2 separate regions of the Homo sapiens genome follow, and region 1 is linked to region 2. The links come from fine-mapping of genetic effects on gene expression. A gene starts in region 2. The other region holds a variant in brackets. All regions are shown on one strand. Distances are from middle to middle.

Region 1 (16,374 bases), 38 kb before region 2:
ACTCTTAAACTGGTAACTATAGCTGTGGCGTGGCATGGCATGCATATTCTCTCTGAGTTTCCAAGTACTCACAAGAATTTAGGACTTATGTTGGTAAGTATTTTTTGTGGATCCACATTTCAACTGGATTCATTTTTTTATTTCCATCTAGACTGTATGCTTCCCAATAAGACTTACAGGTGATCTGGGTACTCTACTGGTTTCTCTTTGGTCTGTAAGAGCTGGAGGCTACTTGTGGCCAGACAACCTTTTTCTTCTGGAATAAGGGTTCTGAGTGTTTTGAGGAATTGGGGCTAAGGGTCCCAAAATGTCACTTTCTAAGATAGAGTATTATTCTGCCCAAAATGAATACAGATACACACACACATTTTAAAATTATGAAAGCAATACAAATTTCAGTGTCAACAGGGTAGATTAAGCACATGCTACAATCCTCCCCCAATCCACATATATACACAGACTCTAGCATTGCCTGTTAAAGATAAGCTCATTAAGCTCCTCTGGAACAGGTGGTGTGCTGAGGGATTGGTTTCAAAGACCAACATGGCAGGGCTCAAAGTGGCAGGGCCCAAAGGCACACTAAGGAGCTGGAACCAGGTTCCCAGTGAGAAGTCTGCATATGAAGGAACTTGATTTGCATAATCAGTCAGAAGCAAACAGAGAGAATGTCAAATCGAAACATTAGTGTAATACCTGGTCAGAGCTCTCGCATCCCAGAGTTCAGGTGAAGGCAGATACAAAAGCACCTTACCAGAAGGCTCTACAATTCAAGGCACACGTGGCCAAAAGACCCCACGATAACTCACTTCTCTGACAAATAAACCACCAGCAAGAATTAGAAGCCATGTGAGGAAATTCAGCACCCTAAAAGCGTAATACTAACCCAACAAACAGAAAAAGTCATGGTTGAGCTACTAAAGTTAATGGGACAATCTGAAAAGGGCTTTAAAATAAATACACTTAAAAGAATACATATCTTATTTAAAATTCAAGCAAAGCAGTACAGAAAGTAAAAGTTTTCTCCGTAATTTTAACTTCAGATAGAATCTGCTGCTCAAATTGTGGAAAACCCTCCTAGACTCAGTGATGCTCTTATACAGAGACAGACATTTTTACATAAACGGAAACATACAATATCTACTATGTCATAACCTGCCCTTCTCGTTCCCTTTCTACTTTAAAATATTATCACATACATTTTCCCACATAAATACATACAGGTCTTCTACATCCTCATAAAGGAAAAATTATATCCCATTGCATTAATACACAGTTTCTTTAGCCAGTGTCCTGTGAATGAACATTCGGGCTATTTTCAATGTGTTCTCCTGTAGCCATCTTTGCACATATGAATGATTATTTCCTTAGGTAAGTTCCTACAGAGGGAATTATTGGCCCCCTAATGGCACACATTTAAAATTTTGATAACTATTATCAAGCTTGTCATCCAGAAAAGCTGTACCAATTTACATTACTGAATGGCTTTAGAGGTATGCATTTCTAGCCACAGGTTTTGTAAGGTAGGTTTAAAGTAGGCCAATTTACCGGAGATTCAATTATACACCCAAGAAAAGAGAAGACGGCTTACAACTCTACCAGCCCTCTAAATGCAATGGAAGGGAAAATGTAAATGTGTTTGTACCTGCACAAAACAAGTTCATGTTGTCTAAGGTACAAAAGCTTCAGGGTCAGTCATGCTGCTGGCATCCACAGTAATCACACTGTAGTAATTTTAACTGTTCCCCCAGCAGCCACTGTTGTTTCCTCGTCCTCCATTTAAACAACTGGACAAATTCTTTGTCTAAGCTTTCTTTACTAAAGCCTCTAGTCTGTTCACCCCTAAATATGATGGCAGTGTGAAAAACCCAGAATCTCCTTTCAACCTCATTTGTTGGGGATGGGTGTTCACTGTAGATGATTTGCATAAACTCAAATGAATCTGGTTTCCAATATTAGTTTGTTCCAGAAGAAAGGCACATTATACACATCCACACTCATTGAAGTATGTTTTCAGCAAAGGAACTATAAAATGCTTCAGAGGCAAAGACACAAAATTTCAGGATTCACAATTCACATATTCAAGATAATCAGAAATAAAATCATATCAGATTTGAGTCAAATTTTGTATATTACCAATATCTTTACAAATATAGGAGATACACACTAGAAATGTTTAAAGTTGAATTTAAATCAGACAAATATCAATAGTTAACTTTTCTCTCTACTCTAATTTTTAATATTTTAGGCATCCTTTGGAAAATATCTCACTCATAGAAAGTCTGTTTATCTTCCTAAAGAGGACCCTTAAGGCGTTTTTTCCTGGCTCTTTCAAGATGCCCATGTATTGATCAGGTTTAGCTTTCTTAACAGGGTTCACTCATTTCCAATGTTGTTCACAAACCAAACTTCATTGATCATCAGCCAGTAAATATCCTATGAGTTGCCATTTCTCTTAGCTAAAATGTCTAGCGTAAAATGCCTGCAATATATATCTTGGTAATCATTCCCCATTCCCTACCACACACACATACTTAATGTCAACAATTTTTAATTATCCACACTAAAGAAGAGAAGCAATAACAGTAATTATTCCAAACTGTACATAAAGCAAAAAATTCACATCTGATTTTGGAAGACATTATTTGGAGGAGAAGGGAGGTGGTTATTGTACAACAGTAAGGTGACCTTTTTCCTTAAGATTTTTCTTAGGTGCTTACAACATTTGCTTTCCAAGGCATGCATACATTCATTTGCTCAACCAACATTTGAAAGGAAATTGTCTTGCAGGGAATACACAAAGGGAGAAACAAAACTATATGAAGATTAATTTCCTCAGTGTCCAAGAGGAAAACTAATATGAGTATCTTCAACAACACTGTGCCCCCAACATGAACATCTGCACTGATTTCAGACAAATATCCAGATAGTGCCAGTCCCATTGTAGGGAGCCTTTAGAAGAGGCTGTCCTTACTAAAAAATTACCTACCCCACAGAATCCAAGTTTCTGTACTTCTTCACCAATGCCTATTTTGTCAGTTCTCTGTTACCTATGTTTAGGTTAAAGACTGAAAAGAACTAAGCATACTACAGCAGAATAAAATAATTTTCTCTTTCACTACTTAGGGTTCTATTTACTATTGTCTACCTCACAAGATTGTTACAGGGACACAATAAGTCAATAGATCAAGAGTCCTTCAAACAGTACCTGGGAGATACATGCATATTTAATAAAATATCAGCTATTACTAATTAACAATACCTGTAAGCACAAGCCTCTCATACTCATGCAGTACTGGGGCTTTTATAAAATGCTTCCACAAGCATACAATCGTTTGATCTGCTCAACCTGATGAGAGAAGTCATTTTATGATTCCCTTGTGTAGATGAAGAATCTGCAACTCAGAAAGTCACATGACTTTCCCAACACCATAGAGTGGTAAGTCTGAGCCTGGCAGGTGAATCTTTTAGCTTCAAGTCCAGGGCATTCTTCTCTATAACCTCAGAGCCTCACACTATGAGACTGGCCACAAACGTGTTTCAATTTTATTCCAAAGGGAATACAGTTAATATTTTCATTTATAATTATTTATCCGCAAGATACAGTGCTCATTTGACCACAGATACAATGGTAATTAGTGAAAGCACTATCAGCTCTTCTCTGTAGCTGGACTACAACATATAAAGGCTGCAGCTTTCAAATCTCCGTAATTAACTGGAATATTACGCACCTTAGCCGTCTCAGCTTCTGCCTGCAGTCGCTTGGGAGTTCCTTTCTGGTCAGGCACCTTCTGGAAATTTTTATTTTTAATGGATTGAGATTCCACACCTTCACCTTCAATTTGCAGTTTAATACCTTCAGCATGGGCAGGGTGATCAATACCCCGTGGATTCAAACCACAGTGGAGAGCTAGGAAAAAGCAACAAATAGAACTCAGAAAACAAACCACATAAAGAAGGTGTCCATGACAGAAAATATTCATCAAGCCTAAGTAGGAAAAAAACGAGGCATCTATGAGTCGAGAGGTGGTGTGATTACTACGATAAATAATATGGTGAGGAGGGAGCACGGTATAGTGGGAAACCTTGAGCTTGGAAATCAGCAAGATTTAGGTACAAATCCAGAAGCCCTCAATTCCAAGTTGTTTGACTTTCAGCAACTTACAAATCCAAATGTTACAGATGAGAATACCAAATCAGGCAACGTTGTTACTGCTTCCCACACACGCAATCATGCAATTATTTCAACCCTGCAGTTTAGTTTGTATCTCTACCTCCATCTGAAAAGTGCTCACCCTCTCTTCTTCTGGACCTTCTTTATTATTTAGGCATCCACTCAAGTCCACTCTCTTGCATTCATCTAAGCAATATTTCTTAAGCACTTACTATGTGCCATCCCTGGGTTAGATCCTGGAAACATGGATTTACATATGACAGATGTTACCTTCAAAGAACTCACAATGTAATAAAGGAGGCAAACAAAAGGACTGGTGATTTTCAAACAGAACTGTCACTTCTACATGGCAAAGAAAAAAAAGCCAGAGTGGAGGGCTCAAGGGCATCAAGCCCAGTGGCTTCCAGTTTTTTGCATCTTACTCTCTCCATGCCCTGTAACATAGATATTCCACAAATAAAACCTAAAGCTGATTTTCTGGGGATATTTATTCATCTAACAAACGCTTACTGAGCCCCCCTATGTACCCTGTATTATCAAATAAATAGCAATGAATGTTGTAAGATCCATGCATTCCACTACATAAACCACCATGTATGTCTGTGTGCAGATGGCAGGTATGTGTGTTTTGACTTCTCTGGTAGTAAATTATTTCATTTCCCTGTTACCCCAACTCTTCAAATTCAGGTAAACTCCTATCCTCATCCCCTTTCCTTTATTCACAGAGAAGTTAAGGCCAGATACTTAATACCCCCATCTTCCCCAGGTCTCCACTTCATCAATAATCTTTTACCCAACATCTTTAGGCTTTCCCCTTTCTCAGCATTCTTCCCCTCCAGCCAGCTTCCGTGACTCAAAAAGTCCAACTCTCTATTCGGCACTCCATTTAGGCCATAGTTTCCTCTTTGCCTCATCTTTGCCAGGATTCTGATGAGTACTTTAGACCTGAGGGATGAGGCAGGCTTCCCAAAAGAAGTGAGGTGTTTTCCTCCCACTATCCACTCCCTCCTTAATAGATATCATCTATTCCTATGTTCCCAATCAACATTCTGGTGACTCCCAAATATTAACTGCAGCCTAGACACACCTTTCTTATGAATGTCAGACAAGTAAAACTGCAGCAGAAACAATTTGCCTGTTTCAGTCTTCGCAAGTTACACAGAAACTGATGAGACATCCTTAACATCACTCTATGATCCATCACTTTCCTTTCATCTATCAGCAAATCCAACAGCTCTACACCTAACATACTGCTCAAATATTCAATGATATTTCTTTAAAAAAACAAACTGATTGCACAAAGGTCCAAATGCACGTGATCTTATTTCTACCACTTTATGTGGACATTATTTATGAATTTCTCTTCTCCTAGTCTCTAAGCTTCCTATTTAGTGGTACACTCTGGGCACTTAACATGTATTAGTTCATACCTCCCTTTTGGGCTTTGTTCTGAATCTCAAATGATCTTCATGAAAAACTCTGAGACATAACTATGTTCATTTCACAGATAAGGAAAATGAGGCTCAAATGGGTTAGGTTCACAAAAGGGCATACTATACTGGTGTGTACAGAAAAGTCACAAAAATCATGGCCCATTTAGTATACACGATTTCATATTACACATGGAAAAATCCAAACTAGATTAAATGGTATGGAAAATTATTAGCTGACAGAACAAGAAGTCCAGTGATGGCACAAGTTCAGAATTAGCTGATTTGCATCTCGGTAGTTTCATCAAGCACTGTGCTTTTTTTTTTTTCTTTCTCCATTCTATTATCCATAGCACCGACTTTATCCTGAACCTGGGTCCCTTTGTAGCATCTAGACTACAAGCTTTAGTTTTCATCTTGAAGCAGAAAGGGCTTGGTTGACTATGGCTTTTTCTCCCAAACCTCCTTCAAATTTTATTCTCTTTTCTCATTGGCCAGGAGTGAATTACATGCCTATTACTGAACTAACATGCTGGCAGTGGAAATAGGATTACCCTTAAACCAACTGACCAGCTCAGGTCAATTCCCCAAACCACACTGCTGCTACTCAACAGGGCTGTAGCAGAATGGATGCTGGGGAACCAACAACAATGCCCACTTTAGGCAGTGCTGGAAAGAGAACTTAGTAGCCAAAGCCTCTGAGAGCTTGAAGCTAATTACTGTTATTATCAATCAGCTTCTCCATCTCCAAAGACTGGCCTACTTACAATGAATATTCAATTAAATACATCAAAGTTGTGATTATTTTTAAAAGGTGTGCTTGTGTAGGGAGATGGGGGATTGGCATGGGATGGATTCAGACATTAATGAAGAAAAGAAAAATGTGTAGCTTTGATCTTTCTGTCTAGCTTTATCCTCTGCTGCTTCCTACCTTGAAATTCATGACCTAGGAATACCACTGAACTGCTGGTAGACCTCCTATTCTCTTCCCCTATCACCTCCCCACCAAATTTGACTCTTATACTTCCTTCACCTCTGATCACGGTGGTCCCACCACCTAGAAATGCTGGTCCTACTCCAACCTAATCCTATCTCCTGCTCTTTGGGAGGCTAAGTCCTATTCACCTCATGTCAGCTCAGACCTCTTCTTCAGAAAGCCTTTTAGGAGTCTCTGGCTACCACAGCAAGAAACCATTCCCTATGCTCCCTCATGCACAGTCCCCTGGTGCTTCATTTTCCTCACAGTACTAAGAATGTCCATGTAATTGATCTGTCTGCCTTGCCCAGCACAACTGTAAGCTCCTGGAAGGCAGGTACCATCTGTTTTTCATCTCCATGACTTCCATTCCTGAGTCCAGGACCTGGCACATAAGAGACATTAAGGAAACACTTGTTCAGCTGCAGAATGAACCAGCAATTCCCTTCCTTTACGCAATCATGCCTTAAATCAGAAGAAAGCTTTTCTCTGCTAGTAAATACTTGGCATTCAAAATGTAAGGTATCTATAAACAGGAGGCAGAATACAGTTTTTTGACTTTCCACACACGTAGGCTTATTTTTCACACAAATATTTTAATCCTCCATAGCTGTTCCTTCCTCCACTGCAAACTCCCCAGTAGTTGATTTAGGTTTTTGTACTTAGAATTATTTATTTAAAACCATTTTTGATAGACTTTGCTTTGTTTTCCCTGAAATTTCATGTCCCTAATATTTACAAATCAAACAACTCTCCAATGGCCTCTTACAATGCATGACCTCCATCTCTTTGCTTGTGTCAAAGGTGTCCCCTTTTGATTTCTCTTTTTTGTGTTCATCACTGCCCTTTCTTGTTTTCCCTAAAGTTATTTACTTAATTTAATGGGCTTGGCAGCTCACTGGTCGGCTTCGAGACCCTCTTCTCGTTTCCCTAATCTTCACCACCACTCCTGTGCCTGACGGATTCCTAGTCATTGAACTGACACCGCAGGCAGCTTGTGGTCTTTATGGGAAGTGCTGCTGCTGTCACTTTTACTTAATTTGAATGTCATTAATATTGAATTCTTCAAAATGAAGAGTTAAAAACCAAAATGAATTTCACAAACATTGCTCTTAAAAAAATTTAAGAGAGAAATGTTTCACTGCAAATGCACATATTTTAGCATTGTTTTGAAATGCCCTTTTGAAGGCACCATGTTTTTTTCATGTGTAAAAACCTACTTCCCCAGAAAATTGAAAACCAGGTGCATTGCTGGTGGGAATGTCAAGTGATACACCCCCTGTGGGAAACAGTATGGTGGTTCCTCAAAAAATTAAACACAGAATTGTCATTTAATCCAACAATTCAACTTGTAGGTATACACACACACACACACACACACACACACACACAAACACACACACACAAACTGAAAGCAGGAACTCAAGATATTTGTATGCTCATGTACATAGCAGCATTATTCATAACAGTCAAACAGGCATAAACCAAATGCCTGTGGATGCATGAATGGATAAACACAATGTGATACATATAATGAAATATTTTGCGCCTATAAAAGGAATGGCATTCTCATCCATACTACAACATGCATGAACCTTGAAGACATTATGCTAAAGTGAAATATGCCAGACAAAAATGGACAACTATTGGACGATTCACTTATATGAGTTAATCAAATCTACAGAGAAAGAAAATAGAACAATGGCTACACATGGGCTGTGGGAGAGAAAATGGGAAGTTATTGGTAAGTTATGGGTATAGTGTTTCACTTTGGGATGATGAAAACTCTCTGGAGATGGATGGTGATGATGGTTATACAATAATGTGAATGTGCCTAATGCCACTGAACCATATAATTAAAAATGATTAAAATGATGAATTTAATGTATATTTTGTCACAATAAAAAAATAAAAACTTAAAAACCCCACTCCCTCTCATTTTAACTTCCCTAATACCTCCATAAATGGAAAGAGAGGTTCCAAAGATATTTTTATTCAAAGGTTTGAGAGTTTATTTATGAATAATATCATCGTGATTTTCATCTAGAATGTTATTTTATTTTTTAATAAAATGGTAAAAATTATAGCTCAAAAGTATGAGGTTACTTCAGAATTTTCCTGGAAAGGAAATGTTCTCCAAAACAGGTCTTGTCCTAATCAGCAGAAGCAGGGCTTGGATTGCTGATTGCTGGAAATGAGCCTGGGCTCTCCAAGGCTTAGTGGCTGAGGGATGCCATTCTCATGTGATTTAGGTGACAGTAACAGGCTA[C/T]CTGGAATGAAGTGCCAGGCCTTGTTTTCTCTGCTCACAGTGATGCTAGAAGAGTTGAGGGGTGCATTGGCATCTGCTGTCATTCCCAAGAACAAGTGCATCTTAGTCTCCAGGAAGCCACCCAACTTCCAGTTCTTCCAATCTCCACCCACACCACTCTCTGTCATGAAACAAGGGATGGAGACTTATTAAATTTTAATGTTCCTCTATTCTGAGTTTTGCCTTGAATAGAGACACTGTGAAAACACTCCCAGTTGCCCCTCAGAATGAGCTGGCTCCCCAACCAAGGAACCCCCACATAGAAACTGCAAGCAGTGCCCTGAAATGTGTTGTGCTTCTCTACCTTGACAGAACTGACCTTTTACATCATATGCTCTTCCTTTCCCTTATTTGCATAGATAACTGCTTCAGGAAATATTAATTTTTCTCTTTTTTCTACTGTAAAGCTTTAACTAGTCTTGCACCCAGTATATCCTCTTAAGCAATAAAAACACTTCTCCTCTTTTTCTTTCTTTTTTTTTTTTTTTTGAGACAGTGTTTTGCTCTGTTGCCCAGGCCGGAGTGCAGTGGTGTGATCATGGCTCACTGCAGTCTCAACCTCGCAGGCTCAAGTGTTCCTTCCACCTCAGCCACCCAAGTAGCTGTGACTACAGGTGTGCACCACCACACCCAGCTAATTTTTGTATTATTTGTAGAGGCAGGGTTCTGCCATGTTGCCCAGGCTGGTCTTAGACTCCTGGGCTCAAGCGACCTGCCCACCTCGACCTCCCAAATTCCTGGGAACACAAGCATCAGCTACATTGCCCAGCCACCTCTTTTTCTTATATGATCTGTATGTGTGTGTATGTACCATGTGTTGCAAATATTTATTGACAGGTCTGCTAAATCTATGACTAGGAGCCCCCAGAAGAAGTGACTACTTCTTGCTGAGCTTTACAAATGTAGTGTGTAGCCACATAACTACCTTACAGTAGGTGCTCAATCATTGTTTATAGACTGAGCATAGATATGATGGAAAGATACTGATTGAATCCTACTCACTGCCATTCGGTACTGATGCGTAACATATATTTTTCAAAAAAGCAAATAAAAGTTGCTTCCAATCTAATTGTGTAATTCACCAAAAATGTTAAATCACAAAACCATAAAGCTATCCTGAAACTACTGATTTATTTGACTGCCATCTGCAAAGCAGAGACTATCTTATTCATCTTTGCACCTGCAAAGCCTAAACAGTTGTACATACTCAACCCTCAATAAATGTTGCTAAATGAATCAGTGACCTTAAAAACAAATATACTCCAATCCCCACCATTAGTTATTAGAATTGAGATAGGTTATTTCAAATTTCATGTTTATGTCTTGCTTCTAGCTAAAGTTCCTGAAGGAGATGGTCCTTCTTTAACACTTCCCTAATATAATATACACATAACACTCTCCAATATGTTTAATTCATTATATTAATTATTATAGGTGCTTCATTTATTGTATTCTGGATTCGAATTCAGCAGAGACTACCCTCAAGAAGTAATGTGAACATCACAAAAAGTCTGTAACTCTTTGTAGCAGACACTTCTGATGGGCTACACATTCTCAACACTCTCATTTTTGCCACCTACTGAAGTATGGCTACAACGCCAATAGCAAATTTCACAGCTTCCCTTGCAGCTACAAGTGAGGTTGATGACAGATTCCTCCCTAGGGCACATAAGCAGAAGTTTGATGGGAAACAAACAGTTCTGGAACTGACAAAAGAGGAAAGATCTTAACATCACTCTTCCCCTTTGTCTCTGCCTTAAAGGCATATGTGATATCTAGAACTGCTACAGTACATGCTGTGACCACAGGGCTACAAAGATGAAAAAAAGTCAAGAGAATAATAGTCACATTGGCTCTGACATCATTGGGCTACTCGAACTTTGTTCTTCATTATTCTCCTCTGGACTTGAGAGTCTGTGAGAAAAGTAATTCTCTGCTTATTAAGCCATGGTTAGTCGTGTCTTCTACAACTTTCAGATGAACCCCTGCAAAATGACACATTTCCATTTTAACCAATAACATAGGATTGTTTAGCCCTTCTTTTTAAAAGAGAAAACAGAAATCCTAGTAAAATGTTCTGGTCTGGGTTTCACAGCTCCTATTATGACTTAGAAAGCTGAATAAGTATAGTATGAATAACAGATATACCTTAGGAATATACCTTAGGAATACATGTTATTATCAGTAAACTCTGACATCAGAGGTAATCAATCCAGATGACACTCTGAAGACCTGAGGATGAAACTTTCTTGCTTAGCTGGGGTCCTAAGGTACCCAGAAAAGTGCCCAGATCATTCATGAAAACTTTTGCATCAATGAATGGGGATGGGAATGTGTTCCTGTGTGTCTGGTCATTAATGTGTTGACATAAAAATACAACAACTGTACCAGAAAGTATGTCTCAGGAACACAGGCTTGGTTTAGCTAATAGAAAGGGAGCACAACATCTCCTTGGGCAAAGGAAACTGCCCAGCAGATATCTTCTAGGACAGGGGTCAGCAAACTATGGCCCATTGACCAAATCCATCCTGCTGTTTGTTTTCATGTGGTTTGTGACCCCAAAATAGTTTTTACATTTTAAAGTGATTGGAAAAAAACATTTTATGACACATGGGAATTACATGAAATTCAAAGTTCAATGTCCATAAAGTGTTACTGGAAAATAATAAATGAGGCATGCTCATTTATCTATATAGTGTTCATGTCTGCTTTTGTGCTACAATGGCAGCAGTGAGTAACTGTGACACAGACCACGTGGCCTGCAAAGACTGAAATATTTACTGGCTGGCTCTTTGCAGAAAAAGTTTGCTGGCCCTTGCTCTAGGGTAGAGTATAACCATAACCTGAAGGGCACTGGGACCTGATAACCCCAGCCTCCTTTACTCTAGCAACATCAAGGAAGAACTTATGGGTCTTTGCAGGACTAGCCTCTGACTTATTCTGTACTTCCCCACTCCCAGCTAATTTAAATGAGCTAAATTATGCTGAATTTTATCACTTGGGTCAGGCAATGAGGAGACAGAATATGATTTCCAAATTTCTCCTTGGTCAGCTAAATGTGATATTACATATACTTGCTGAAGCTTAAAATTTCTATAGAGGTCTTTTTCCCACTATCAAAAACAGGGGTAAAATATAAATGTCCAGAAGGGTAATTCAGCAGCATTAAAAGCTGAACATGTCCACCCCCAGCAAGTCTAAGTGGCCAATAATAGATGGCTCCCCTATTCCATGCAAGAAGAGACTGGAAAAAAAGAAGTTATTACATCAATGAGAAAGACAGGGGAAGAAACTAAATGGAAACTGAAAGACTGAACCCACAAAACTCGTGCTATTGTCCTCACAAATCTGCCCACAGTAGCCTGACAATGATGATGTGGCTGCCCAAGCTGGACCTACATGACTGTTCAGCACAGCCAGACGTTCAAACCACATGCAGCAGTGTAAGGACATGGTCTTCTCTGGGCCCCACGATGCTCACTCACTCTGGTTTACTTGTCTACAGAAACAATTTCATCTTTGTAAAAACAGTTCGCTATAATGGAATCTAGTTTTCCAAAGACTACTTAAGTTTAATCACCACATCAAATATTCACTTGTCCTACACTTGATACATAGACAACCTAAAACAATGGAAATTAAAATAATGCTTAACTTAGGTATTGCAGAATCAGTAAAGTGGGGACAGACTTTAGAAGATGTCCAAGGCATGAATATTAACTCTTCTCATTCATGAGGAGAATACAAGGGCAGACACATGCAGAAGTTCTATGATGCTTTAGACAAGGGATTCAGGTATCACTTTGAGAGATTGATAAGTGGTCTACACTGGTGACTTTAAAAATATTTTTAACTATGATACTACAGAAAGAGATTTCACATTGTGAATCCATGACCAATCATCTTTATGTATATGAATTGAACCACGTTTTTATGAAATATTACTTTCCTTTACTACATATCATCTACTCTTTATTTTTTTAAATAAAGTAGTTCCTCTTGCATCCTTCAGGGAAGAAGAAATAGACATACTTTTCTCCATTCATCCCACTTAGTAAAGTTAAAAATGATGGACATTATATATGAGACAAACATAAGACAACTGAATGGTAAAGAGAAGGAAGACAATCTAAAGACCTTGAAGGACCTTGAATAATCTGGTGGTGAGTTCTCTCAGCTTCCTTTTGCCTCGTATATCCCAGACTTAGAACTAAGAAACCTGCAACTTGGGAAGAGCTATGGGCACAGAAAAAAAATAATATACAAGAGCTTGCTCTCTGTAACCAAAGGACCAGGAAAGAGACAGCCTAGCAAGGTAGGAAACATGTAGATAATAACTGCTTTACTCAAACATTACAGAAAAGAAATGTGACCCAACCACCACATCAGTAAAGGCTGATTGTAAAGCCTAGACTCACACCCTCACCAGGCTGCACTTAGGTACCCCAATACTCCCAGGAGAATGCCATAGAAGGCCAAGTAGGGAGTCCAGGTTTCCATCTCTGTCAATTGGTAAAGAGGGTACCTCCTCATCTCCAAAATGTCAGCTGAGATGATATGGCAAGGCTGGATTTTCACCTCTACCAGTTTATGAGAGGTGAGCCTTCCTTCCTGCGATTGTGTCAGAGGAAGTCTGGTAGACAGGACTTTCACTATTACCCAGCCATAAGGAAGAAGTCCTACCTTTCAGGTATCAACTGAGATTGAGCGGGGAACCTGGATTTATAACTCTACCTGGCAGTAAGTAAGTGGTATCTCCTCTTTTCCCTGGCCAGACTGGCATTTTAAAAAGCTAGCTGAAATAAAAGGTTTAAATAAAATCTAGAGTCTCATAACACAACATGTAAATATCCAGGTTTCAATAGAAAATCACTCATAACCAGGAAGATACCAAACTGAAAGACAAAAGACAATCCATAGACACCAACATCCAGATGACAGAGACATCAGAACTATCTGAGAAAAATTTTAAAGCAGCTATACTAAAAATGCTTCACTAAGCAATTACACTTGACACAAATGGAAAAAATAAGCTTTTCCAAGAACTAAAGTCTCTGCAGAGAAATATAAGACATGAAGAATAACCAAATGGAAATGTTATAACTGAAATACATAATAAACAAAATAAAAAGCTCAGGTGGATAGGCTCAAGAGCAGAATGGAGGAAACAAAGGATAATTGGAAAGGGTAGAGGGCACTTGGAGAACAGAAATGTTCTCCACCTTGCTTTTGGTTACATGATACAAGCATCAAAACTCATCGAACTTAACACTTAAAATATGTACTTTTATGGTATATAAATTAATCTCAAAAATACAACAAAACAGAATTAAATACAAGCACTAGATATATTTTATTTTTCAAAGCGTTTATAAATGACTTTTGATTTACATGTTTTCATTCCTAACTCTATTCTCGGCCAACACACATTAGTTGAAATCCAAGCTCTACCATTTTCTTACAATATATTTTCAAGCATGGGCAAGTTATATCATCTCTTTTCTGTAAAATGGCAATACTAATATTACCCTATTTTTTACACTCACATTATTATTGTGTTGATAAAGAGAAATAACACATATAAAATTCTTGACACCTACCATGTGTTCAATGAACATAAATCCTCCACTTTTACCCATTGCCCTCCTACATCACAGTAGACAAATATTACATGCTAACAATTTTAATAACAGTTAAATAAACAAAATAGTACCATGCACTTTTAAAGGATAAATACAGTATAGACATAAAAAGTGCAACCTACCTGGAAAAAACAAACTAAAGTATAATTCAGTAGGAAGACAAGAAGGAAAAAAGAACAGCTTTTCAAATACATAAAAAAAAACCTGGGAGCAAATTGGGAAATGAGGTTAAAAATAAGAAATAAAAGCAAATATCTCCACCTCATAACATAGTTTCCACTGACAAGCTGACTGCATTCTCTGTGAAACCAAGCTAATGAAAAAAAAGGTGACCCTAATCATTTAGGAAGTCTTTACATATGACAGTTGGGTATTTTGGGAGGGAAGAAGGAAAAAGTATAGAATTAACATATTCAAAGGACTTTTCATCCTCTAACATGAAGGTGGTGATACCTATTAAAAAAAGGGGAAGACTAAGAGATGCTAAGCAACATGTTTAAGGCCACCATAAAAATGGCAAATAGAAGGCTGGGTGCAGTGGCTCATGCCTATAATCACAGCACTTTGGGAGGCCAAGGTGGGTGGATCACCTGAGGTCGGGAGTTCGAGACCAGCCTGACCAACATGGAGAAACCCTGTCTCTACTAAAAATACAAAATTAGCTGGGCATGGTGGTGCATGCCTGTAATATGAGCTACTTGGGAGGCTGAGGCAGGAGAATCACTTGAACCTGGGAGGCAGAGGTTGTGGTGAGCCGAGATGCCAAAAAAAAGAAAAGCAAATAGAGGAAAAAAAATGGCAAATGGGAAATGAAATGAAATTCAGACTGATACCACATAGTTCCCATGTTACTCTGGGGAATAAGATTTTTTTTTCCTCTGCATTTTAATTATTGTTTAGTAGGTAAATAATGGGCTTTGGAGTCAAATCTGGCTGTCCCCACTGACTAGCTGTATGGCCTTGGTCAAGTTACTTCCCTTTAGGTTAGTGTTGTTTTACCTATAAGATTAGAATAATGATAACTTCTTTATAATATTTTAGAATAATTAAAGCATATTTAAAGTGTTTAGTCAATACATAGAAAGTGGTACATAGAAAGTGCTCAGCAAACAGTAACCACTGCTGTAATTATTACTTCCTTTACTGTTATTAATATTATTTTAATGATATTGATTTCTTCAAAAGTCAAATATCTAGATCATTTGTACATACATCTGCATATACTTGTACACACAGCTCCACTAACAGAAACAGGTGATTAGTATTGTTAGGGAAGGTAGAAGGTTACAAAGGTCAGACACAGGCTTCAGGGAAGAAAAAGATAAAATTCTCTTGAAGGTTCTGTTCTGGAAATAAAAACAAAAAAGAATATTCCAGGCAGAAACAGAAGTATCTATCAAACCACAGAAATATGTAAAAGCCATGAGAGGTTCTGGTTTGACTTAATGAACATGAGCATTTCTCTTCTCAGGGAGGGTGGGGCAAGATAATATTAGCAGGCAATTTTGTTTGCTTACTCTGTCTATTCATAGTAACATTCAGACTAAAGGAACATTCAAGTTTAACAAACTCCATCCCTTGTTGCACTTGATCTTCACAAATGTCTATATATGCATGTGTATATGTGCATATAACATATATATATTTTTTGTAATCAAAAATCACATTCTCTAAAATGAGAGATATAATGATGAAGGAAATGGACAGAGCTTAATTCATGAATTGAGAATTAACACTTTAAAAACTTGCAGTGGTCCAAAGGCTAAAAGTAGTTCAAAGTTCAATGGAGCCATTGATAAGTATACGAGTTGCTAAAGACTCCTTAAAAAAAACAAGTTCCTTTTCAA
Region 2 (16,374 bases):
ATCTCGTAGAGTTCCTTGTACATGGGTGCTACTCTACTGCTTATCAACAGAAAGGCACCATCTGCTTGAATGCCTGTGAATGAGCATTTGCAATATCCCCTTTCTCATAATTAAATGCACAACAGCTGACACTCACTCGCCAGAGTTCAAGCATGGGCTTCAGATCCCCAGCTCCCCCTACCCTTGTAATATGTCACCACGTCATCCACTGTGACTCAGCATTACAGAACACAGCTACACCAGCAAAGGTTTCCCAGTTTCTGCTTCTCAGCACCAGCGCTTGTTTCTTCATTCAGGCGTGAGAAAACAGCAAGGCAGATGAGAAAGAAAGGGTGGGATAAAAGGAATTAGGAAGGGCTGGGCTAGGAAATACAACAGTACAATTAGACTGAAACCCTGTCCGAACTAGCTAAGAGGGCTACAAAAGAGATGGGGGTGGCAGGAACTGCTGCCACAGCAAGTTTCAAACTAGGTTGGAGGCCCCATTCTTGTTCACACAGTCACTGGAAGGAATTTTCAATGACGAACTTCTAGCCGTCATTCTCCTTCCTAAAACAAAGTGATCAATAGAAACTCTGGTGCAGGAAAGTCAGATCTGGTGGTATAGAGAACATAATAAAAATAAGAAAAAAAGATCCTCAGGAATAAGTGAATGGGAGAGAATCAGGGAGTAATTAGTTTAACAATCACACAATGAAGCTGCTGCAGGGATAAGTACCTATGAGGGAAACTTGTCCATCGTCTCACTGCTTTCATGACATCTGCTCTGTAGAGGAACACAGTTGGAAGTTCTCATTAAATGTGTATGGGAGTTACTGTGGGAATCAAAAGCAGTCATAAACCCACCCATTCCTTCATTTGTCTCCATTCATTCATTCAAGCTTCAAGGATGAGACATGAGACATAGTCCTTGCCGTAGAAAGTACCACCAGTAGAAGAGGTACATTCATAATGATGTTCCCAACAAGAAAAGGTAGTTAGGAAAGCATAGGTGAGCTAGCACCAAGAGAATCACACAGAGGCAGGACAGAGCTTCTTGTGTTCTATGAAGGGAAATCCATCAGAATTACACTTCTGGTCTCCCTCTTTACCCTCTGGGTCCTCCTCAGGAGAGGAGAAATCAACTCTCTGATGAGCAAGTCTGTGAAAAGGCACAAAGCATAGGTTCCCCACCTCTTCCTTTGGGTCCCACCTGCCTGCTGCAGGAGCCCATGTTCTCTCTGCTCTCCAGCTGCCAGTGGTATAGAGCAGGGGTCCCCAACCCCTGGGTTGTGAACTGGTATCAGTCCGTGGCCTATTAGGAACCACACCGCACAGCAGGATGTGAGCAGTGAGCAAGCAAGCATTACCACCCAAGCTCTACCTCCTGTCAGATCAACAGAGGCATTAGATTCTCAGAGGAGTGCAAACCCTACTGTGAACTGCACATGTGAGAGATCTAGGTTGCACATGCCTTATGAGAATCTAATGCCTGATGATCTGAGGTGGAACAGTTTCATCCCAAAACCATCCCCCATGGAAAAACTGTCTTCCATGAATCTGATCCCTGGTGCCAAAAAGGTTAAGGACCACTAGCATAGAGGGAGGCATCCCTATGACGGGTAAGTTCACTGCTGCATACAATATTAGCAAGCCCACTTACCCTCCAACCCAAAGTCAGAAAAAAATAACCCACTATAAGCTTGTGATAAAAATGATGTTTTTATCTCCCATGTGACTCCTTTTACTCTCTGTGATGCAGTTCTGAGTTCAAGTTGGGTACAAAGTCATCATTTATGGGGCTGCAAAGCCCAGTGTTTACCGTGACTGCTTCTATTTGTCACAAACGTTTGACGCTATCTCATTTCCCATTTTCCCAGTCACCGTTATTATTACTTAGCCTTACAATATTTTGGTGATGTGTAGTTTCTTCACTCTTCTACAGGAGAAAAAACATAGAACCTGAGCACTGAATGACTTATCAGAAGATATTTGGTAAGCTACCATGTTCATTTATGATGGAAAATTCAGATCCCTTAATATAGATGTCATTAAGAGCACACAGTCTTGCATTTGACATGTTTTTCTTGGGGAGAGAGGTGAGTGCTGAATATTGGAAATCATTTTTCTGCCACATGAGAGGTGCTATTCTGTTAGACCTGGAATAGAAATTACCATGTACAATGTCCATCCTCCCTATTTTTTTCATAAATATCTGAGGACAAAGCAAGAAAAGGAATTGGGGATGAGGGGTAAAAAAAAAATCCTTCTCTAGCTCTGGAGACTCGTGCATTTATATGTCATTCATGAAACAATGACTGTGGGCCTCCTAAGTGCCAGGCGCCATCCCTGGAATACAGAGATGAATACAAAGATGAATACGACACTGTCCCCAATGAATCCACATTTTTCTTCTCCCTGAATAATATTGCAACCCATTTCTGTTAGAAAACATCAATAGGTTTAACCGTCTATACACAGTCTGTCCATAGAGAATGGATTAGTTTGGGGTCCCTGCTACCTCCTTCCAAGAGGTCCTAGTCCCCAGTCCTGCTAAATTATTTCACAAGACATTGTTTTTGTTTTTTTTTTTTTTAAAAAAAGGCAATGTATGCCAGTATAATCCTAATCCAAATGCAGACCATAAGGTCGTACCCTGTTCTGTGGCGGGAAAGCATACCTGTAAGCTGCCCATAAATGCAAAGCATGGGTCACAAGCAGACTAGGAGACATAAATAGGATGTTGCAAATAAACTAAGAAGAAAACATAACACAGGGTAGTTACAAAACAATAAACAAAGGGCACCTCTTTTTCATCTTAAACACACGGCTGCAGGTTCAGCAAAGTGAATGAGTGAACTACTTGCTAGTAACACTTTTACAAATTCAAGTTTACTTAAGAAAAAGTTACACATAGTAAAAAACCTTCTAATTTGTTACTAATTAGAAAAACTGGCTGGCATGAATAAGTGAAAATTCAGGATATAAAACACATGCCAAATAGTATAGCTTTTCCTAAGAGAAGGGATGAGAGTACAAGTGATATTTACTTAGGATGCAGGTTCCAGACACCCTTCTAGAAGCCCTCTCCTTTATTTAATCCTCACAATGAGCAGGGCACGGTGGCTCACTCCTGTAATCCCAGCACTTTGGGAGGCCGAGGCGGGCGGATCACGAGGTTAGGAGATGGAGACCATCCTGGCTAACATGGTGAAACTCTGTCTCTACTAAAAGTACAAAAAAATCAGCCGGGCGTGGTAGCAGGCACCTGTAGCCCAGCTACTCGGGAGGCTGAGGCAGGAAAATGGCGTGAACCCGGGAGGCGGAGCTTGCAGTGAGCCGAGATCGCGCCACTGCATTCCAGCCTGGGCGACAGAGCAAGACTCCGTCTCAAAAAAAAAAAAAAAAATCCTCACAATGTTCCCAGGAGGAAAGCAGTAGTGAGCCCATTTTTTCCAGATGTGGAGACTAAAGCTTAGAATGTTAAGCAATTCGAACTGTATTTTCTATTCCAGTTCCTCTGGCAAAACTCCTTATTCTCTGAAGCAGCATTTCTCAATAAGTTGGGTAAACTGATCATTACTTGGCCATGGCTTGGCCTCGTTATACGGGATGGCCATGCGCTGCAGGACATTTATTATCTGTGGCCATGGGCACAAAATACCAACAGCAGCCCCCAGCAGCAGTTCCTACATATCCCAAATGTGTCCAGGGACAATGTCACCCAGCAGTAGAGGTAAACTGTTCTAAAAGATTTTTTGGGCATCAAGACAAAAGACTGAAGAGAAGGGCACTTCGAGGTGGGCAGATCACGAGGTCAGGAGATCGAGACCATCCTGGCTAACATGGTGAAACTCCGTCTCTACTAAAAATACCAAAAAAATTAGCCAGGCATGGTGGCGGGTGCCTATAGTCCCAGCTACTTGGGAGGCTGAGGCAGGAGAATGGCGTGAACCTGGGAGGCGGAGCTTGCAGTGAGCTGAGACCGCGCCACTGTACTCTAGCCTGGGCGACAGAGCAAGACTCTGTCTCAAAAAAAAAAAAAAAAAAATCTCCCATCCTCAAATCTGTCAGAAATCCCTTATTGTATCACATTTAGGCTTCCAAGAAAGCCCCATGTACCCTTATAGAACCAGTTACAAAACCTCCATGAATATATTTGCCATGCAATTCATGAGCATTGAGTACCTATTATGGGCAAAGTACTGTGCTATGAGCTAGGAATATAAAGTCCAAGTCTAACCCCCAAGGGGGTTAGAGTCTAGTAAGAGGCAGATTAAGTATGATAAGTATTAAGATAAATGTGAGCAGGAGGCACTTCCCATAGACTGGAAAGAGTGCTGAGAAGGCAGAAGAAAAAGGAGGGCTGGGACAGTTTCCCAGAGGAAGTGACATTTTCCCAAAGGCTTGAAAGACCAAGTAGGAGTAACCAGGAAGGGACTGGTCCAGGCTGATATCTTTGCAAAGACCAAAGATAGGAATCATATTTGAAGTTAAAGTTTAAAATACTTCCTTCATTCTTTGAGACCTCATTGTGATTCAAACTCAGGATCTCCTGTTTACTAGACAGGTACTTTAACCAAGTCACTAGAAAATAAACTCTCCATAGTCCACATGTACTTCCTTCCTAAGTTCTTGTTTTTGTAAAGTCTGGCTTCACTGGTGTAATCACCCATCACGCAAGAAATAAGACAAATTTATACTTCTTACAGGGAACAAGAAATTGTTTTCGAGAACAGTGTGGACTAGCAACAAAGAGGAGTGTCCCTGTCTTGGGGACACAGGAGTGGTGAAGACGAGAGATCATAATCAGTGTCACCTGATGGGTGACATAGAACGGACACTTAAGGAGTAGGTCAACATATCCTTGGTCTCAAGCTCAAGATGAACTTTATCTCGGCTTTTGTTTTGTTCTTTGGCATCTGAAGTCTTGACTATCAAGCATAACGATGCAAAAAAAAAAAAAAAAAAAAAAAAAAGATTCTCACCCTACTGGTACATTTGCACAGAAAAGAAAACCTAGAAAAATCTTGATTGTAAGAGAGAGAGAGGATTTCATTTTTGTTAATAAAGTTAGGAAAGCTGGAAGTGGCTGGCTGTGGATCTCTGAACCTGAGATAGCCCAAAGGCAAGAGTTTCCCGAGTTTATGGGTGCTGAGTATAGGAGCTGGGTTGTTGCTACTTCAGGTTGTTAAGACAGTCGTTATAAGGGGAGCAAGAGTCAGATTAGTTCAATTTCTTTCTCCTGGGGCAGGGAGGAGAGGGAGCAGCAAGCCAGCCTCGTGGCCTTCTCGTCTCTAGCCTACAAGGAATAGGCTGATTTCCCCTTGGCAAGGCGCCTGAAGCAGCTGGCAGGCAAGCCCTCCTCTTCCTACTTCAGTACGCCCTCTGACCTGACTGCACTCAGAAACCAAAATTCTGCAGGTGAATGTAGGCTCCCATTTCGTCCCACAATCATTTCATCATTCAGGCACAGCTTGACCTCTAATGTGACATCACAAACCCTTCCGGTCCACAGTTTTTTTTTCTTCTTCAGAAACTACCTAAACAAGGAAGTTTGTGTTCCAAGGTAAGATAACCTGAAATGAAAAACTCAGGATCCCTCACGAACAGCCTGACCCTGCTTTCAACCAGGAAGTTCAAGGGAGGCAGGACTTTACGGTCAAAACTGCAAAGCCGAAGCTCAAGACTGTAAGAAGAAAGTGATCTTCAAAGAAAAGGATTCACCCAAATCGAAGAGGTTGTTGCACTTCTTTTCCCTGGCTGATTACATTTCATGTCTGTAAACTTTGCTAAGCCCGGGGCGCTGGCTGTATAAGCAGAGACAGGTGTAGGGACACCTCTACCCTCTGGGTACATCTGCGGCCGCCGCTGCTGGGTGCATAGGACGAAGGGCCCTCGACCCAATCCCAGTCCAAGCTTCCGGATGACGCACCTGGGCTGGGGACCTCTCCCACGTGAGGGGGGCCAACCAAGCATCCCCAGCCCCGGGGCCACCCAGCCTGCTCCGGAGGGAGGGGGCAGGGAAAAAGGGCATCTCGGGGCCAAAACCTCATGCCGGATCCTCCGGCTTTCCCCCCATTTCCAGGATATCGTTTCGCATCAGGGACACTCGTCTCCACACCTCCTACCTCAAAGTCCTACGCACCTACCCTTCACGTCTCTCCAAAGCAACTGAATTAAAGCGCCTACTGGCCTTGGCGGCGCAGGTGAGTGCCAAGAGGTGGAGGAGGAAGGGGCCCGCTCTCCGCCACCCCCTTTCCTCGCCTCCCCACGATCGCCAAGCTTCATCGGGGATGTGTGCCTTGGGGTGCGCGGGTTAAGAGGGAGCTTAAAAATGCCCCAAGCGTCCCTTACCTTCCACAGCCATTCTCTCAGAGCTTCCCTAACGCATGCATAATTTTCTTGGCCGAGGTACTCCTCCTGCCCCGCGCTCCCCCCTTCCTCTCGCTTTCGCCTAAATATTCTGCGCTTATCTGCTCCAGGACCAACCTGCCGCGGTCACGCAAAGCGAGGCAGCCGGCTCCCGGCTCGGCGCGCGCAGGGCGTCCTGGGAAGTGTAGTTCCCTCCCTTCGCTCGGACTGGGGAGAGCACCCCGACTCCTCCGCGGAGTGCCGCCTGGCCCCGACACTTGGAGAGCAACTCCAGCTTCAGCTGGCCAGGCCGAGCAATCTCTCCTGGGGAAGTTGTGAGGGGACCAGGGATGCCTGGTTGTGGCGGGGCGGGGGGGGAGGGGGGGGGGGTTCCCGGGAAGCGGTCTGGACTACATCTCCCAGGAGGCCGTGCGCTGAGATAGGTTCGCTGCTAAGAGTAGGGACCCGTGATTGAGCCCTTCCCTGTCCATTACAAGGGGTTTGGCACCTAGCAGGTGTGGTGAGGTGGGCAGGTGACGGTCAGCTGTGTGATGAGCTCCTGCGAGCTCGTCCGTGGGCCTCTGCCGCCGGTACCGCCCCGCCCCCTGGCCTCCTGAACCACCATTTAGTAGGGAGAGCAGGACCACTGTCCTCCTGTGTGGTTCTCCACCTGGGCCAGAGAACGCTGCCCAGGGTGAGGTTGAAACTTGTTCCTTCGCACCCTGAGATGTATGGGTTTTGTGGGGGAATTCCGACGGTTGATACAGTTGTCTTATCCTACAGGGTGGTTCAGGTGGCTAAATACTTGGCATGGGGGTGTAGGGGAGGAGGAGTGGCTTAAACCCCAATAGGCAACGTCCCCAAGGGGTTGTTAGGAACAAAGTCTGGGAGCCAGGATTGCACCGGAGGAGGTCAGATGAAAGCCTGTCTGGCTTCCAGGATAGGAGGCTTTCAATTTGCCTAGACTTGGAGCCTGTTGACAGCCTGTGATAGGGCCTAATAATTAACAGTGCCTGAGAATCAGGTTCCTTCAACTTCTGAACCTATGTCCTAGCTGTAGGTGCTGGGGATGCTATAAGCAGACATGATAATGGGAATCACGTGGATAGCAATACAATTCGACAGCTCGTAAAAATTAAGTTTCTAAACATTTTTTCCTGCGTGTGAAAATACGGATACAGTTGTGGCTGGAAGGGGTAAGGGAATAGCCTCGGGAATAAATCTGGCTCAAGACTGGATTGACTTTTAAAGGCCTTCAGTTTACAAATGTATTTGGTACCACATCCACCCAGTCACTCATATATAATGTTAATCTCTGTAAAATGAGGAAGTACAAAAATCGGATTCTTCCCATGATGACTACTTAGACATTTTTGTGTGTCTTGGTCATCAGCAAAAAAAAAAAAATGTTTTTCAAAACAATTTCGTTTCTCAGTGTATACATGCACACCTGTTGTTCTGGTCACTAATTACATGCTTAGTTCCCCTACTGGGTAATATATAATAATAATATGTGTATAGGTACTTTAAAAAATACCTGCGTGTAACCATTAAATGCTCTTGTTGATACTTTAATTCTGAGTCCATGGAGCTGTGTACAAGTCAAACCTAAGCCTCTCTTTTAGGTACAGTAGAGAGAGACCCATTCAGTGAGACATAATTTCCATGGGAAAAAGAATTTTCCGACCTAATACACAGCCAAGCATTCTAAACTCTGGAAAGAACTGAAATCCAGGTGCTTCACTACTTTATGTATATAAAATCACCAAAGTGTTAAGTATTTTCTGAGATTGAATGAATGTGAAAGAAAGCCATAGGACAGGTAGTATCAATGGTTCTCAACCTTGGCTGTGCATCAGCCTTCTACAAATATATATTCCTAAGCTTTTATCTTAGTCTCACAGAATCAGAGCTTATGGGGGTTTGGGTAGAGGCACTCAGGTTTTAAAAACCCACAGGTGATTCCAGTCTTCATTGAGGGTGAAAACCATTGGTCTGGTTCCAAGCTTTTAAATATCTGGGTGATATAAAAATATAAAAGTCATTGAAATCTGTGGTTAATTTTAAAACTTCATCTTAGCTCATCTTTAATATTTTTCCCAGTGATGTGCATTCTAGACGAGTTTTATTTTTAGTATAAATAAAATGTGAAGGAGATGTTAGTTTCTACCATATGAAATAGCCAATGTTTGACCATTTTTAAAACCTACAAATAGAACAATTTCATGTGGTTCTGCCTAATAAGGGATAAACAATAGTTGCGCAGAGGTTTTCAATTCTGGCTGAACATTAGAATCACCTGGGAAGTACTAAAAAAAAATTACATTTATCTCTAGAATGTTTGAAAGATAAAGACACAAAATACCAACCGTTGGCAAGATTGTGAAGCAATAAAGATTTATATATTGCTGGTGGTGTGCAAATTCACAAAACCACTTTGGAAAACCATCTGAAATATTCAGCTGAATATATGCTTATCCTGTGACCCAGAAGTTCTACTCCTAGGTTTACACCAAACAAATATGCATACAGATGTTCTCCAAAAGACATGTGCAAGAATGTTTGTGGCTGCATTATTTTAATGTTCCCAAATGGAAAACAACTCAAATATTTATCAACACAGATTGGAGAGATGAACTGTGGTATAACCAAATAATTCCATATAGCAGGGGTCAACAAACTAAGACCAATGAGCCAAATATGGCTCACCATTTATTTCTTATAACTCACCAGCTAGGTGTGATTTTTACATTTTTAAATGGTTGGAAAAAAAACAAAAAAAGTATAATTTGCAAAGCCTGGAAATTATAAAGACATACTTACATAATATCCTCAATTTTGCCTCTTGTCCTACAAAGCCTCAAATATTTCCTACCTGATCCTTTGCAGAAAAAAAGCTTTCCAAACCCTCCTATAAAGTAATGCAAATGAAGGAATTACAATTGTATACAACAACATGATGAGCCACATGTATTAATCGATTGCTGTTAACAAATTATCCCAATATTTAGTGGTTTACAACAATACCCATGTATTACTTCAGTTTCTGTGGCTCAGTAATTTGGGCACAGCTTAGCTTCTGCTTTAGTATCTTTCACAGACTGCAATCATGACTTATTTTTGGTCTTTTTTATCAGCAGCCAAGTACAGTTCCTAACAGATATACCCAATTTTAGCAAGGGGCAAAGTCCAGACCTCATCCCATACCTCTCATAAGCCAAATTCTGTGTTCATTATGATGCTATTGTTTGTTCCTTATAGTATATAAGCACTTCGAGTGCTGGAACTGAGTCTTATGCTTCATATCTTCCAGATTCTTGGTCATAATTGTGGTTACATAGTAAGTACTCAATAGATAATTTATTACTACTATTTTTTTATCCTTGTTATAAGTAGCATTTGTTGGGAAATTACAAGTGCCAAGCTCTGTCTAAGCATCTTGACATACATCATCTCCTTTAATCACTACAATATTGTCAGATATCACTATTTTCCAGATGAGGAAATTGAAGCTCAGTGAATTTAAGTAATTTGCCCCATGTCTCCAAAACATGAATTGTAGCAAGGGGATTGAGGTCTACCTAAGTGTAGAACTCTGTGATGTTACTCCATCTAGATTTCAATACTGATTACGTGATCACAAATCTGAATTCATAAGCACTTGGCCAAATAGGAATTGTCATTACTAATAAAATGAAGGGTTTAAAATATTTTAATATCAGAAATTGTGATATTTAGAATGATTCAAAAATTTCTGAATATATCAGAGAGCACAGAAAGGGAAGGAAAAGCCCATTACCTTATAGTGAATTAAATAAAAAAAGAAATATTGAGATGAGGCTACAGATTTCACTGGATTCTAAGATTTAAAATAGTACATATAAGTACTTTACTGTATTTATTGTTCTAACTCGGTTGCTATATTCACAAGCCTCTACAGAAAACATTCATAAATCTCAAAAAGTAAATAGATTATGTTTCTATTCTGTTCAGGGAGATCTTCTAAACCTAACCAAAAGGATTCAAACCCTAAAAAGTAAAATTTTTGACAGGAGGAACTGAGAGGAAAAAAATAATTTTTTTGTAATTAAGATAAAAAATACTAACTCTAATCCTTGAGTCATGAATAAAGTGCCAACCATTCAAGTTATATCAGGCTTCCATTGGAGGAAGTAAGCATATTTCAGGGAACATGATTTAAGCAAAAGCCTAGTTGTTTTTGCTTAAATCACATTGTGCATAATTAAATCGCATTGTGTGTTATCTGTTTGTTGATAAGTTGGTGATATTCTATACCATCGTTCGTCTAAACTATACTTTCAAAATCAGACTTAAATTATGTCTTCAAAATTTGAGCAGAATCTGTCTACCTTTATATTAACTGGTTATCTGAATATTTGGCTTCAGTACTCAAGTTTCGTAGACATACAGAACTAGATTGTAATCCTGACTCTCATTTACTCGATGTTGGTTATTAGCAAAGTTCTTTGACATTTCTGTGCCTTGGTTTTCCCACATGTATTGTAATGCTATTAATTGTGTAATGTATACATTACCTAGCTCACAGTTTGGGGCTCAGCAGTGACTGAGAGAGTATCTATAGTGTTGTGCGCTGTCCTGGCACATAATGGATGCCCAATAAGTGTTTGCTCTTTTGATCATCCATGGAAGCCTGAGAGGCCATTCCCAAAGAACATGGATATAATTCAGTTAAGCAGTAGCAAGGGCCTCAGGATATTTGCCAAGTGTGGAGTAAGTCTGCCCAGTCCGACTTGTAGTTAAGCCACTGAATGAACTTAACTTGATCAATGCAGAGCCTCCTCTGACAGGCAAGAAAACAGGGCTGTGCCATGGAAGAGCAGTGTCCTGGACACTTGTCCCTTTTTGGATAGGTTTTGTTGATAGAAAAGAGTGTGGGATTATTGTAGGCTCTAGTGGCTGACTGCATACAAACTTTCTGTGTTCTGGATTTCCAACCCTGAAGTATTAGGTTGGTGTAAAAATAATTGCAGTTTTTGCCATTTTTTTTTTTAATGGTAAAAACTGCCATTACTTTTGCACCAACCTAATAAATTTGCAGCACCTCTTCTGAGCAGAGTTGCCCCTACTTCCCCAACCAGGGGAAATTGTAAACTGTGTGTAAAAGCATAGGAATGGTCATCTGGAATTACTTGTCATTGGTACACATCAGCACAAGAGAACACTAGAAGAGATGCAACTTATTTTCACAACTGAACTATTCTATGCCAGATGTTTAAAAACTTAAGGTGTGATGGGCTCCCTTTTACTACTACTTCCAAAATGACCAGAAATCTTTACTAGGCAGAGATGCTAAAGCTGACCGCTTACTGTAGTTATTTGACCAGTCCTTTCCCTTCCCTTCTGTTCCTCTGTTAATAATTACCTAATAAACTTTATATTTTTAATCATTATATAGGGTACAGTGAGCCTTCACATACATTATTGCATTTTATCTTTACAATGGCTGTCAGTGGATAGTATTTACTTCATTTTATAGGTATGAAACAGAGGCTGGGCAAGGATGGATGATTAGCCCAAATTTATACACCCAGACAGAGCCTGAATTCAACACTTGAGACTTCTGCATTCAGTACTTTTTTCATTCCATCTCAATGTACTTTCTCATCAGGTGTAAAAGTGCCACTTACCCTATTGGCTTCCAAAAATATATTGAAATGCACTCTGACAGGAAGAATCTCATTTGATATCGGGAATTTCAACAAAATCCCACCTTATTTGGGCAAAAGAACTCTCTAAGAGTGAAACTTTTCTTGAATGAGCTTAAAGTACAGTGATCTTAATGGAAGATTTTAGCTAGAAGATATTCATCTTCAGTACTCTTCAAGTCTAAGCTACGGTTTTCTCTCACTAAGACCACTACTAATTTCAGTAGTTTACTAATTAGTCTATCTGCATACAATTCTTCCCCAGTGTGGCTTCTCTCCACCAGCAAACAGAATGGTATGACCCAAATCTAATCATCTCACTCCAATTTGAAGTCATTTGATTGCATCCCTTTACTCTTTGGTTAAAGCCTACAAGCCCTAGCAAAGTTTTTCTTAGGCTCCCATTCTGGGTTAGTTTTCTCCACAACACTCATATCAGTTTGTAGGAATATATTTATTATTTTCATTTAAATAGTGTCAGTATCCCCACTAATTCCATCGGATTAAGAATGGACTCTGATTTTGCTCCCCTTTGATCTTCCAACCACTAGCACTGTATCTGGCCCAACAATACATACTTAATACATGTATTATGTATCTGTAAGTACTGTCTGACTGAAGGAGCACATGAGTAAACTACCTAATCATAAATGTGTTTATTTTTCCCAATTAAACTGCAGGTTAGTATTTTGTTTGTGTTTGTGTTAATGTTTTATACTCTTAGAAGTAGGCTTTTTTTTTCTAACCTAGAATCTGTTCAGAAAGGACTTAGAGGCAAGTTACTCTAAGTCCTATCATTTCACAGTTGAGGCAGAAAACCAAAAAAGTTTGCCAGGATCACATCATAGCAGAACAATGTCTAGAACCCAGGTTCAGGCCAAGGTTCTTCATTGGTGGTTTGATTTTTGTTTTTGTTTTTAGAGGATGTGGTGGGGAGAGATTTCTGTTCCACTGGGCTCAGTTTGGCTTGGTGGCTGAGCTTTCAGTCAAGGAGGCTGGGGCAGCTCTGCTCCTCGCTGCAGGTTTTTGAGTAAGCTGGGGAACTCTGCCTCAGGCTAAAGGGGCAGCAGCTAACGGCAGAGGAGCAAGAGAGAAAAAGGAAATATGCAAGGCTTTTAAGCCCTGTCTCAGAACTGCAGCACTTTCACTTCTCTTACATCATGTGTTGAATCAAGTCATAGGGCCAATCCAAAAGTCAAGGTGTATTAGTTCATTCTCATGCTGCTAATAAAGACATACCTGAGACTGGGAAATTTATAAAGGAAAGAGGCTGGACCAAAAACATAAAGAACCTTTTCTTTTTAGGAGGCCATATGCTTTCTTGTTCTCCCTGTGGGAGAATAAAAACCCCACATGTTGTGGTGTTGCACAAAGAAAGAATGGAGTTGGGCTTTTGTGGTTAGAGATGAGAAAAGTCCATCAGTTGTCAGAAAGTAAGAGTCTGAGGAATTCATGCAGTCAGAGAAAGACAAAAGGCTCTGCAGGTGCTGATGACAGATGACTGTCCTCATAAACCTGAAGTCATGATCTAGGGCTCAATCCTAATGTCTGAAAACTCAAAGAAGTAGAAGAAAAATGGGACCTAGGAGATAATTTAGATCGCAGCTGGGAGAGAAAGGACACAGCACACCTAAGATGTGCCTTGTGAGATAAGGCAAGTATTAGCATGGTGCAGCCCTGGGTTTCACCTTTGACTGGCCTTTTCTAGCCTGTGATAACTTTTAGTGAAAAATGTGGCATTCAAAAGGTATCTCTGCAAGGTCTAGTTTTATTCAGGGATCCTAAAAGCTGGAAATATGAACCTTGTGGGGCTGGGGAAAATTATTGGCTAATTTTTGCCCCACACTTTTAAATGCTAATAGAGTAGTATCTGTTAGGTATCTTCGGTGATGTGGTGGTGTATTTGTTAAGGTCATCTCTGCCTTCCTTGTAGAACCCTTCTATGGATGCTTAGAGGTTCCTTATTCTCTTCCTCTGGGCTTGTCTCAAAAAAACAACAACAATAGGCCAGGCATGGTGGCTCACACCTGTAATCCCAGCACTTTGGGAGGCCAAGGTGGGCAGATCATGAGGTCAGGAGATCGAGACCATCTTGACCAACATGGTGAAACCCCATCTCTACTAAAATACAAAAAAATAGCCAGGCATGGTGGCACATGCCTGTAGTCCCAGCTACTTGGGAAGCTGAGGCAGGGTAATTGCTTGAACCAGGAGGCAGAGGTTGCAGTGAGCCGAGATCACACTACTCCCCTCCAGCCTGGGTGACAGAGTAAGACTCTGTCTCAAAAAATAAATAAATAAATAAATAAATAAATAAATAAATAAATAAATAAAATAAAAGACAATAACAGACACACAAAAAGCCTCCCCGAAGCTGTGGTTTCTTATAGATGCTGCCTTACATGTGCTGGATATATTAATTGATTCCACACAGTGATACAGTAGAAATACCCTGGACCCTGGAAACATAGATCAGAGTTCAAAATCTGCCTCTTTACAAACCAGCAGGGTGAACTAAAGCAAAAGGATTAACATCTCTGGCCTTGGTTTTCTCATCTATAAAATGGACAATATCCCTCACCAGGTCTTTTTGAGGGCAAGTTATTTATCTATCCAACAAATTATCCCCAAATTTAGTGACTGTGATAGTTCATTTGTGATGTCAACTTGACTGGATGAAGAGATACACAGATAGCTGCTAAAGCATTATTTATTACCAGGGCTTCAGTAGGCACTGAGCCTGTCCATCATCTGCTGAAAGGGAAACCCAGGTGGTTTGGGATTTGATTCCAATAATTGGGTTGCCCCAGGTGTGTCTGTAAGGGTGTTTCCAAAAGGGATTGGCATGTGAGCCTGTGGGCTGAGTGGGAAAGATCTGGTCTTAATGTAGGTGGACACCAATCAATCAGTGCAGTGTCTGGATAGAACAAAAAGGTATAGGAAGGGCTAATTCACTGTCTTCTAGAGCTTCCCTTAGAGCTGCCCTCTCTTCTCCTCCTGCCCTTGAACATTAGAACTCCATGTTCTCCAGCTGTTGGGCTCCAGGACTTATACCAGTGGACCCATGGGCTCTCCAGCCTTTGGCTTTGGACTGAGAATTACACCATCAGCTTCCCTGGCTCTGAGGACTTCAGACTGGGACTAAGCTGCACTACCAGATTTCCTGGTTCTTGGGCTCACAGATGTCCTATCGTGACTTCTCAGCCTCCGTAATCGAGTAAACCAATTCTTCTAATAAATTTCTTTTCCTCTCTCTCTGCATATATATATATATATATATATATATATATATATATATATATGTATATCTTTTAGTTATTTTAAATGTACAATACATTATTGTTGACTATAGTCACCTCTGTGTGTGTATATATATATACACACACACATACACACACACACATATATATATATACACACACACAGAGGTGACTATAGTCAACAATAATGTACTGTACATTTTAAAATAACTAAAAGATATACATATATATCCTATATATTTATATATATATCTATAGGATATATATATATTTTTTTGAACCAGGCAATATATATATATAACCAGGTATGTGTGTATATATATATATACATATATATATATCCTATCACTTCTGTCTCTCTGGAGAACTCTGAATGAAACAGCGGCTTAAAATAAACATTTATCATCTCACACAATTTCTGTGGCTCAAGGGATATGAGAGCAGCTTAGCTGTGTGGTTCCAGCTCAGTGTCTTTCATAAGGTCACAGTAAAGATGTCACCCAGGGCTGAACTCATCTGAAGGCTTGACTGGGGCTGGAGGATCTGCTCCAAGGTGGCTGTCTCACCCACTTGGAAATTTAGTGCTGCTTGTTGGCAGGAAGGCTTGGTGCCCCCACAACATGGACTTCTTCATGGATTGGCTGAATTGTCCTCATAGAGGGACAGTTGGCTTTCCCCAGAGAGGGTGACCCAAAGGGGGCAAGAAGGAAGCCACAGTACATTTTATGACCTGGTCTTGGAAATCATACGTTGTCACCTCCAGCTATTCTACTTGCTACAAGAAAGCCACCAACTCTAGCCCTCAAAGGAATGGGAATTAAGTTCCACTTTTTAAAAGAAAATTTTTGTGGGTACGTAGTAGGTGTTTATGTTCATGGAATACATGTGATATTTTAATACAGACATACAATGCATAATAATCATAGGAAGATAACTACACATTTGTTTGAGCTCCTTATATATTCTGGCTATCAATCTCTTGTCATATGGATAGTATGCAAATATTTTCTCCCATTCTGTGGGTTGTCTCTTCACATTCTTGATTGTTTCCTTTGCTGTGTAGAAGCTTTTTAACTTGATGTAATCTCATTTGT

Evidence for each region.
Region 1: its variant is fine-mapped to the expression of SAMD12 in atrial appendage (GTEx, PIP 0.91).

The regions. Positions count from the first base shown.
Region 1 is chr8:118,576,987-118,593,360 of GRCh38, forward strand. SAMD12 (sterile alpha motif domain containing 12) reads right to left here. Exons shown (of 4, transcript NM_207506.3): 2 at 3,729-3,907. Among named protein-coding and RNA genes, the nearest start is that of SAMD12-AS1, 36 kb to the right of the region's middle. The variant C/T (reference allele first, on the strand shown) is at 8,847.
Region 2 is chr8:118,615,468-118,631,841 of GRCh38, forward strand. SAMD12 (sterile alpha motif domain containing 12) reads right to left here and starts at 6,496. Exons shown (of 4, transcript NM_207506.3): 1 at 6,337-6,496. The coding sequence starts at 6,349. It overlaps SAMD12-AS1 (SAMD12 antisense RNA 1), which reads left to right and starts at 5,534. Exons shown (of 5, transcript NR_038210.1): 1 at 5,534-5,719; 2 at 6,068-6,188. RefSeq lists enhancers at 5,489-5,538, 5,569-5,778, 6,389-6,588 and a silencer at 6,689-6,838.